Regions from separate parts of the Homo sapiens genome. Here all the other regions are reported to be linked to region 2. The links are microRNA targets in miRTarBase. Many come from high-throughput screens and were not tested one by one. Region 2 holds a microRNA gene; each other region holds the end of a gene's coding sequence.
What was found. Region 2 holds the annotated microRNA hsa-miR-218-5p (UUGUGCUUGAUCUAACCAUGU, at 1,685-1,705, shown strand). A microRNA usually pairs through its seed, bases 2 to 8, with sites in the 3' UTR of a target mRNA and lowers its output. Matches are read on the target gene's strand: a 7mer-m8 pairs with bases 2 to 8, a 7mer-A1 pairs with bases 2 to 7 and ends in A, and an 8mer does both.

Region 1 (3,250 bases), not on the chromosome of region 2:
CCCTCTGGGGACTCTCAGAAAGGGGGAATGGGGGGAACTGCTGCTTGTCAGCCACAGTGACACAGCTGAACCTGGAAAGGGTCTCCTGTCAGCACCTCAACCCCTTGCTTGGCAAGCAGGGAAACTGAGTTCCCGACAGCTCAGGGACTTGCACATGGTCCTGGGTGAAGGAAACACAGGGCTTGAGAATCAGAAAAGCCTAACTTGTAGCTCCCTGGCTTATTAGCCGTGTGGCCTTGGGAAGTTATTTAACCCCTCTGGGCCTCCTTTTCCCCATCTGTGAGACAGGGATAAACACGATTGTTGGAGGATGATGTAAGGGTGTGTGTCAAGCGTCCTTAGGATGGTGCCTGGCGGGTAGTCCTAATACTGCCTATCATCAGCTATCATGGTTACAAAAGAACCATTTCTTTGCAGGAATAAAGCCGGTTGGTTGGACAGTGAGCTCAACATGTTCACACACCAGTACCTGCAGCCCAGCAGATAGTGGGCACCTGAGGCGGAGTCTGCGTGGAGAGGGGCGGTGCTGCCAGCCCTAAGTGCCATGTGGGCTCCCCCAGGGGCACGTGTGGCTCCTGCCCCCTGGCCACTGCCAAGAGAATGAAGCACCCAGTCTCGTACCATTTTGAGCCCTCCAGCACTACTTATTTTCCCCCACCTTTGCCTGCTGTTGCTGGAAGAGCTGGCTCATACCCCCAAAGGACACTTTCAGCGACAGCTATGGACAGCATGGTACCAAGGAGTTAAGTTGAGGCTTTTTCCAGCTTTCTCTGGTTCATTTGATTGCTTGATAAGGCCTCAGGATCTCAGCATTGCACAATGCCTCATGGAAGCCTTTGAGGGTATCACACAGACACCCCCACCTTCCTCCAGCCTGTGCGCACCTGCCCTCCTTGCAGCCCAGCACACCTGCAGGTGTAAGGGACGATTGGAGTTTCTTCCCAGAGAGTCTGTCCCAGAAGGACTGTGGCTTGTGTGTGTCCATCTCGCCTGTTGGCTCAGTGCTTCATCCCATTTGCAGAGCCTCAGACACGTCTTGGTGGTGAGGCTCAGTTACCCCTGGGCTTAGGCTGAGGCGGGCCCTGTGCTGGGGGTGGTAGAAAGGATGCTGCTGAGGCAGCTGGAGGAGTGGGAGTAGCTCAGAGGGGAGGGCTGTTGGATGTATGGGGAGCTGGCAGAGCAGGTGGCAGTCACTGGGACAAGGAGGGACTTGCCTCTCTTCTCATTATTGTGTCCTTTGCTTTAGTGTCAGTCCTGGACTTGTGCAGGCCTGTTTTGTGTAGATCTGTTTTGGAAGATGGCATGGTCTAGGTGGTTGAAGGATGTAGTAGAAGGATGGATGGTGGAAGGTGGGGACGTTGGTGGCTGGCTGAGGTGCATGGGCCCCACACAGGACAGCTGGAGAATGGGCCGTCCACTTGGCCTCGTTCTGCGAGGGGCTCATGGGTCTGAGAGCCCCCACCCACTAGGCTTGATTGCATCCCTGTTGTGCCCTTTAAGAGACATGTTTCCACCCCACCCCCAACCTTGTCCCAAGTGCCCTGGACTAAATTTCCTGTGCCAGTGACTGCAGTTGGCCAAGGGACAATGTGGAAAACCCAGTGTCCATCTTTCCACCCTCCCTGATCTCCAGAACCTTCGACTGACCCCCTTGTCTTTATGCTGATGTTGAGTTTTGGGATTGTTACTGGTTGAAGTGGGGGCAGATGCCTGTCACCAAGGTGTTGACTGTGTGAGAAAAGCAGTTTGGGTGACAAATCCTGTGTGGCACAAGTTGGATCGCTTCCTAGAAATAAGCAACACCTCTCCCAAAAAGCAGCCCACAAGGCAGGGGCCCAGCAGCCCAGCCATCACTCATCTTTGAGGAAATGAGTTGGTAGCCTCTGTGCACTGTTTGGTGGCCACATCACAGGTGATGTCCTGTTCACATACCTGCTTGTATTTAAAGCCCTCAGTCTGTCCTGTTGTGTGGGGCGAAGTGATGGACTCTGCCAGGTGGACATGCTGTGGGTGGATGTTCCCGGCGTGTGCCGGGCCTGAATGGACAGGGGCCACTTCACAGCATGTCAGGGAAAATCACTGTCACACAATTCCAATGGATTTTGTGCTCTTTTTGAAAAAAAAAAATTCTTTAGCGTAAACATGAATTTTTTTTCAATGTAGCCCCTGGGGAATGAATGAAATTTTGAGCTTCTTCAATACGTAAAATTAAATTTATACCACTGAGGGAGAGACCCTTTCTGAAAGAAGTATGGCCAAAAGCACTTTAATGCTGCTGACATTGTTGTTTTTATGTTCATTTGCTGGAGCGCAAGACGTGCTGACACAGTGAGTTTTCTCTGATGTATTTAAGGTGATGTATTTGCTTGAGTTACTCCTGTATCATTGCTCATAATATTGGAAACTAAAATAAAACCTAGTTGGAAATCCTTTGTGAGATCTGTCTTTTTGGGTTCTTGTACAAACTCCTCTTTGACATGGCCAGCTGTATTCTGAAGTGACCATAACTTTGGGGAAGTTCCCACTATAATCTGGCTCCTTATTCTTGGAAGGAATTTGATACTCTCAAAAGAACAGATGGTTTAACTGATCTTTAAGGATCAGGAAATCGAGACTGATTTCTTTACAGATTTCTCTGTAACTCCAGACCATTTTTCACTTAAAAAGTAAATGACTCACTGTTCCATCCTGCTTTGCCTTCTGAGAATTTGGTTGCCACTATTCTTTTTTTTTTTTTTCTTTTTTGAGATGGAGTCACGCTCTGTCGCCCAGGCTGGAGTGCAGTGGCACGATCTCGGCTCGCTGCAAGCTCCGCCTCCCGGGTTCAAGCAGTTCTCTGCCTCAGCCTCCCAAGCAGCTGGGATTACAGGCGCCGACCACCAGGCCTGGCTAATTTTGGTATTTTAGTAGAGACAGGGTTTCATCATCTTGGCCATACTGGTCTCAAACTCCTGACCTTGTGACCCACCTGCCTCGGTCTCCCAAAGTGCTGGCATTACAGGTGTGAGCCACCGCTTTTTTTTCTTTTTTTTTTTAAGGGTCCTCAGGAGTAGATACAGGGGTAGTCAGTCAGTTTCCCCGCCCCTACAGCTGTCCTCTTGGCTCTGGTGCTGCCCAGTGTCCGCCCTGCTCGCCCACAGAGGCCACAGCTCAGCTGATAGCAACCTCATCCTTCCAGATTCCCAGGCTACACACTTGGGGCATCACCCTCGAGTCCACGGTCACACGTGCTGCACCAAATCTGTCACCT
Region 2 (3,250 bases):
TTCTAGAGATGGATAAATTGAGGTCCACACAGCAGAAAAATCTTATCTAAGGTATTGAGTATTATTTTTAGGGCAAGATCTGAAACCCAGGACTTCTGACATACTGTGAAGACTCTTGATAATTTACCTACAAATCCCTCCATTTCTTTTTGTAGGAAGAAACCAAAGAGAAAGAAAATTAGATTTTAAGGCTTGGTGAGGGTGGCGGTTTGCACGAACAGGATGGATTTCCCCTGCTCTTGTACCAGGGTCCTAATCAAACTCACATTTGAAGTCCCAGAACCACAGTGTTCACAGAGCCCTGCATAGGTGTCAAAGCAGAGTGGAGTCCAGATTCTAGTGGCTGACTCTAGTGCGTGTGATGAGAGACCTTAGGAAGGAGGAGAGGCCAGACAGACCCAGAGCTGTGGGCTGGCTCTTCCTAACTGGTCCAACATGGCAGACAACCTATGCACCGTTGAGATGCTGAGACCATCTAGAGGATATGCCCAGTCCCAAAAACACATAGTGGAAGAATGTTGATACTGGTTCTCATGTCAGAGGTCAGGCAGGGAGGGTCTCAGTCACTTAGCCTTAGCTCCAGTTTCTTCAAGATGCACATCTCCAGCCTAATGCCAAGTGGGAGGAAGTCCCAAGTCAGCAGGTTCATGGAAACTGACCCTGATCTATCACAGAGAGGAATATAAAAACTGGGTACCCTCACCTGGGCCTTTGGCATCCTGACAGTGGTTATTGGTTCATCCTGTTCGCTCCCATAATTTCCAGCTAAGGAAGAGAACAAGAAATCAAGAAGGACCCCAGAATTCAGTGTCTTCCCCTCAGACTCATCACTTGGCTTCCCTTTCCTTCCTTCTCTTAGTCTCAAAGAGGCCCTTCATCAGGAGGCGCACTGGCCACCATCTCTGTGAAAGTCAGTGTTCTCAAACAACAACTATGATTGCAGGTTCCTCAGTCCAAACCCTACGGCCCCATTTGTTTTCCTGTCTTTCTCTCTGGCTAGAGAGATATATTTTCTTTTGACACCCCACTGCTCCTCTATTAAACCTCAAATGATCTGGGATGAGTGTCTATCAGCCAGAGCATTCCTGCTGACCTCAAAGGATATAAAGGAGACTCCTGAATTGTGGAATGTCAAAGGGGGCTTTTTCCTAAAGAACAGCATTGAAGGTTTGCTAGACCACTGGGAACTGTGGATTGTCTCTTGACTTAAGGGGCTAGAGGAATGACTGTGATGGAACCACTCAGCTGTTGGGGGGATTGGGCCTATGTTGCAAAGCATGCAGAAGATGCTTTTCTAAGTTTAATGTCTTGTCAGACCAACTGGTGTGACTGAATGGAGTTTAGAGGCTCAATTCAGGCATGTGATAGGATCACAGATGTCTGAGTGTTCTTTCTTTCCTTGGGAAGGAACCATGCTGTCCTGAAGCTCCCGAGTATGGGCATCCAGTGATTTCCCTCCCGTTCTTCTCCCTTCCTACTGTGTCTCCCTGGGGTGGGGCACAAGGGCAGCAGGGCTGCAATCTTCGGAAGTGTTCCAGTGGAACCCCACTCCTGATACTAATCACGCTCAGTGGGGGCCTGCTCCGGCTTCCGCTTCTCCACGCTGCTTCCTCTGAGCGCTCCTGTCCTCTCTCTGACGCTGCTTCCTGACCTTGACTCTGACCAGTCGCTGCGGGGCTTTCCTTTGTGCTTGATCTAACCATGTGGTGGAACGATGGAAACGGAACATGGTTCTGTCAAGCACCGCGGAAAGCACCGTGCTCTCCTGCAGCATGGCCCGCCACCGCCGCCACCACCGCTGGACACCTCTCCTCTGCTCTGGAGCACCGCAGCCCACCACCTGCCAGACCCACCTCTCCCAGTCTCAACTCACCAAAGGCAGGAGGGTAGGAGTCTCAAAGGATGCAGATACAGAGGGAAATGGGTCTGGAGAAGCACCCTGGGGAAAGAGATCTGTATCCACATCTCTTTCCCAAAATGGAGTCACCCTCCCCCAAATCTAGTCTGGATGTCAGACAAGGAGTAATAACTAGGTTCAAGCTCAGAAACTACTGTGTCTCTTCTTCCACTGGAAGGGAACAAGTATACCCAAGGCATACGCCCCATGGTTTCATGGGAGAGTCCCAACCCAAGGTCATTTTTCCAAGTGGCAGCTAACCCAAAGGGGAATTCCTACTGCTTGTGACCCCCGACCCCTCCCACCACCACCTTTATTGGTATTCACTTTATTTGAAATGAACGTCAGCATGAGAATGGGTGAAACTCATGTGAGTCTGAGACTTTGGGTTTAACCCAAGGTTCCTTCTGAACCTCATTCCCATACTTTATGAAAACACAGTCCCTGAACCCCATGAAACCTAAAGTCCAGTCTGTTTCCTTGACCTGCAAAGCACAGTTAACGTGGAGGTGCTGGGCTCCTCACCTGGTGCTAATTCTGTTTCAGGGGAGGGGAGTGTGTGTGGACGTGGAAACCTGCTATCTCTGATAATAAAGAGAGGGATCTTGGTACCTCTTATTTTGCTTGTTCCTTGATAAATCCTAGACCCAGTGTAACCAGAAGACTGTGTTGTTCATTCCTGTCCTGGAGTCTTTGTCCTATTCTGCAAGAGAGAGCTAAGGTGGGAACTTTAGCCTAGCTCAGAACTAGAAGCTGAGCCCTGGGCCCCCATCATGAGGTGTGACTCTTATTACCTCGTCTATCTGAGGTTACCCCTCAGAACCAGGAGCCCAACCATTGCTTAGTAGTTTTTTAACATACATTGAGTGCTTGCTATAGGCCAGGCAGTGAACTGTTTTCACATCATTACCTTGTTTAATGTTCACAAAATCTAAAGTCCCACTTTACAGATGAGGATATTGAGGCTCAGAGAGGTTAGCTAACTTACCCAGGGTCATCTGATTCCAGAATGGCTGCACTGTACTGCTGTAATACCCACCTTCCCAGCTGTGGACAACCCCATTGCCTTGAATTAGAACATTTAAAAACTGTGATTTGATAGGGACTTGAAATTTGCTTAAACTCTCCCTTTCAGACTTTCATCTGTTAGTAGAAAGAACTTGAGTAAGAGAGAAAGCATTATTCAAATGGCTGTTCCTCTCCAGCATGGACATACAAAGATCCCATTTAACACAGAGCAAATCCTCGAGCCTGGAGAAGTTCCCTTTCCCACCTTACAGAGAGGGGCATTCTGAGGCCCTCGGCACTGCCCCTAACATGGCAGGGACCAGGCCTCTGGGAGTGGGTCCATAA
Region 3 (3,250 bases), not on the chromosome of region 2:
CAGCTGTAAAAGCAAGAAAAGAGTTAGCAGAAGGCACGTTGGTTATGAGTGCAGATATTGCTTGGGCTCAATTCCTGGTTCTGCCACTTCCTGTGTGACCTCAAGCAAGTTACTTAACCTCCCCATGCTAACAGTTCCCATCAATAAAATTCTAACAAGAGCACCAAACTCACTGGGTTGCTGTGATGAGAACACCCATACTCCCGACATAGAGTAAGCTCTATAGAAGTGCCAGTCTTCAGTCTTAGGAAGACACAGGTGGACAGGAAGTCTGAATAGGAAGATGCCCATGAAAGGGCCTCGTATGGTATCTGGCACACAGCAGGTACTTTACACACATTCTAAAACAGGGAGGTAGAGAATTCAGCCTTTTAGCACAAGCTTTTACCTTGCCTGACACAAAAAACACCTGGAGTCAAAAAGCACCCGAAAACAACAGCCAAGGGGGTCGGGAGCAGTGAGAAGCTCCATCTCACAGTCACATGAACGGACCACTGGCTTTGAAAGCTTCCCCTCTGAGCCCAGCATCAGCTCCCCAGGAAAGAACCACGGAGAACCAGGCCTCCTGCCTGCCCCACCCACACACCTACCAGGCCTGGTCAGCCAGGACCACAGGCAATGCTTCACCTCAGCTTCCTGCATTTCCTCGTAATCCAAGAGGACAGGAAGGGAAGGGAAGTACACAGGGTCTGTGTGTCCAGGCAGGGCAGGCTCCGCATTCAGGCTGCGCAGAGCACAGAGCACACCCCAGGAGTCCTCCCAGGCCACCTTCACGGCCTCCCCCCCCCACTACCTTATGCCCTTGAGGGAGGAGTGTGAGGGATACTCATGTTTAAGACCCCCATGCCAGGAATACAAGCAATCTGTGATATTTCCAGAGTGTGGGCCAGGACACTGCTAACAGCTTCAGGGGCTTCACTCATTTAATCCTTTTAATCATCAGGAGTCAGCGATTATCCTCGGACCCATTTCAGACATGGGTAAACTAAGGCTAAGAGGTCTGGTGGCATGGCAAGGTCACGTGGATAAGTGACAGAGCAGGGTTTGAGCCCAGGTCCTCTGCCTGTGAGCTGGGCACTCACCTATCTCAACACAGACCACACCGATGCATGGGCAAGATGTCTCATTCTGGAGAACCACCCTGACCTCCTCACCCTTCCCCTCCTCTATCAAATGCCACTGCCTGCCCCACAGCTTACAGAGTAAAATCCACATCCATCATTTCACATCCCTGCTCTTCTAGGATCTGGCTTCTGCTGATTTTTCTGCCCTTCCCTTTAGAGTTGCTCCCAGCCAAACACAAATTCTCATGGCTCAAGTCCATCTCCCACACTGCCCACCCCAGGGGGCGCTGTGACTCTTCTTTGGAATTCCTTTCCCACTCCCTCCCACCCCAATCCCTGGAGGTGCAAAGCCCATCTAGGTTCCCAGGCCCTATCACAGGTCACCTCCACCGTGAAGCTTTCCCTAACTCATCCCAAGTCAGCAGTGTTCTCCCTCTTCCTTGCTTAAGGCAAGGAGTCACTTTTCTACTTGAATCAGAGAAGCAGCTTTTAAGCTTCTCCCAGGAGGTGCCCTCAGGCCCTGCTGGGGTGAGGTGAGAGGGCTGGTAACAGGGAGGGCCAAGTGAACTCTGCCCTCTTCAACAGGGTGGCTACTCTTTTATTTGCTTCTAAACCTGCATCAGATTTCATTGCAAGAAAGGGTTCTCGGAGGAAACAAACCTTGACCTCAGGGTGTCAGATGTGAAGATGTCAAGACACCCCAGGGCCAGGCTGGGTGTATCAGGACTCAAGTCAATGCCCCCACAATGCTGTGCACAGAGCAGGAGTTCCAAACATATGGCATCTATGTTGAGCACCCAGACTAGAAACCTTGGTCACATAGTCCTGTGTTATGACACCTCTGATGGTCATTGCATTGTTCCTCCCAAATACACAGTGGACAAGAGGGCACTGCCACTTCTTGGCTGGCAGCAAATCAAATGCTGGGTGCCAGGAAATGGAAGGTGAGATCATTAACGTCAAAAGGTTTCCAAAGCAAACCTAAATGCAGAGGAAAGAGCACCATCTGCATTTTAAGGGCCTGGGTTTGGATGGGGTCCTTCTGGGTGGGCCCCAAATCCAAGATTTCAACTTGGGAAGGGGAAATGTAAGCCATCCCGCCTGAAGAACCAAAGCATTCAGACAGGAACTGTTTTTATTCCAACCACCTCACCTCCTTAGAATGGGAGGCGAACAGTGAAATAGTGCATTTATCTTAAAAGTGAAATAATTCCAGGATGGTAGGGCGAGACCCTGTGATGGGTGAATTTACCTCACTTGATACCAAGGGCCCTTAATACTCGGGGAAGTGGGACTTTGTCGACAAAGCCAGGACAATCCCCCTACCCCCACCCCACCCAGCAGTGATTAAAAACCCGTACGGTCACTTTCTATGTGATGGCTGTCTCCCTCTCACCAGACTGCATAGCGGTTGCAGATGAACATTTGGCACCTAGATGGGGGTCAAGGAGCTGGGGCTGTGATTCAGGGAAGATGCTGAGGGGGACTGGGAGTCTCTGTTTGAATCTTGAAGCAAGGGGTGAAGGTGTGGGGTGTGTGTAGGGGAGCTGACACTGAAGTCTTTCAGGAAGCAGATGGTAAGGGTCAGGGGGTGTGTGTCTATGCTGGGGTGAGGGTCCTGTGGTATTGCTGGTGATGCTGACTGCCTTGCCCACCCCAAGTTGGACTAGGAGAGTCCTATCAGGCTGCTGGGCAGGGAGGGCAAAGGAGAGCACCATTCTGCGGGTAGGGCAGGAAGGGTGGCCTCCCCACCCTGGGTGCCTGCAGAGCCTGGCAGCCCCGCCCTGTGGCCATCCGATGCCACATGTCCTCTAGAGTTCCTGGGCCGGCTGCTCCACAGCCTGCTCCTCCACAGGCTGCATGGCCTCCTGCACGTAGACGATGAACTCCGAGGCCTCCCCGCCCTGCGTGTAGACAGTCACCGTCTCAATGCCCTCCACGTCGTCGGAGGACACCACCAGGTGGTGCTGCTCGGCAAGCTCCACGGACGCTTGCTGGACCGTCTCCTGGATCATGACCGTGTGGTTGGAGCTGGGCTCCTCCTCGGTGACCTGCGGGAGGAGGGCAAGAGAAAGGTCACCCAGCGCCTACTTCCCGGTCCAGCGTAACAACAAAGTCACAACTACAGTTTAGGAGGCACCAGTGCGCTGCGGGAGCACGTCCATTCTCCACGGATCCTCTCTACC

Region 1: the mRNA of MFN2 is a reported target of hsa-miR-218-5p. The part of its 3' UTR that is shown has no 7-base or 8-base seed match.
Region 3: the mRNA of ZFAT is a reported target of hsa-miR-218-5p. The part of its 3' UTR that is shown has no 7-base or 8-base seed match.

What each region holds. Positions count from the first base shown.
Region 1 is chr1:12,011,079-12,014,328 of GRCh38, forward strand. It overlaps MFN2 (mitofusin 2), which reads left to right. Exons shown (of 19, transcript NM_014874.4): 19 at 418-2,430. The coding sequence ends at 487. Among named protein-coding and RNA genes, the nearest start is that of MIIP, 6.8 kb to the right of the region's middle.
Region 2 is chr5:168,766,666-168,769,915 of GRCh38, reverse strand. MIR218-2 (microRNA 218-2) reads left to right here and starts at 1,661; the gene lies at 1,661-1,770. The region is part of intron 14 of SLIT3 (slit guidance ligand 3); the gene reads left to right.
Region 3 is chr8:134,475,607-134,478,856 of GRCh38, forward strand. ZFAT (zinc finger and AT-hook domain containing) reads right to left here. Exons shown (of 16, transcript NM_020863.4): 16 at 2,182-3,115. The coding sequence ends at 2,876. Among named protein-coding and RNA genes, the nearest start is that of ZFAT, 240 kb to the right of the region's middle.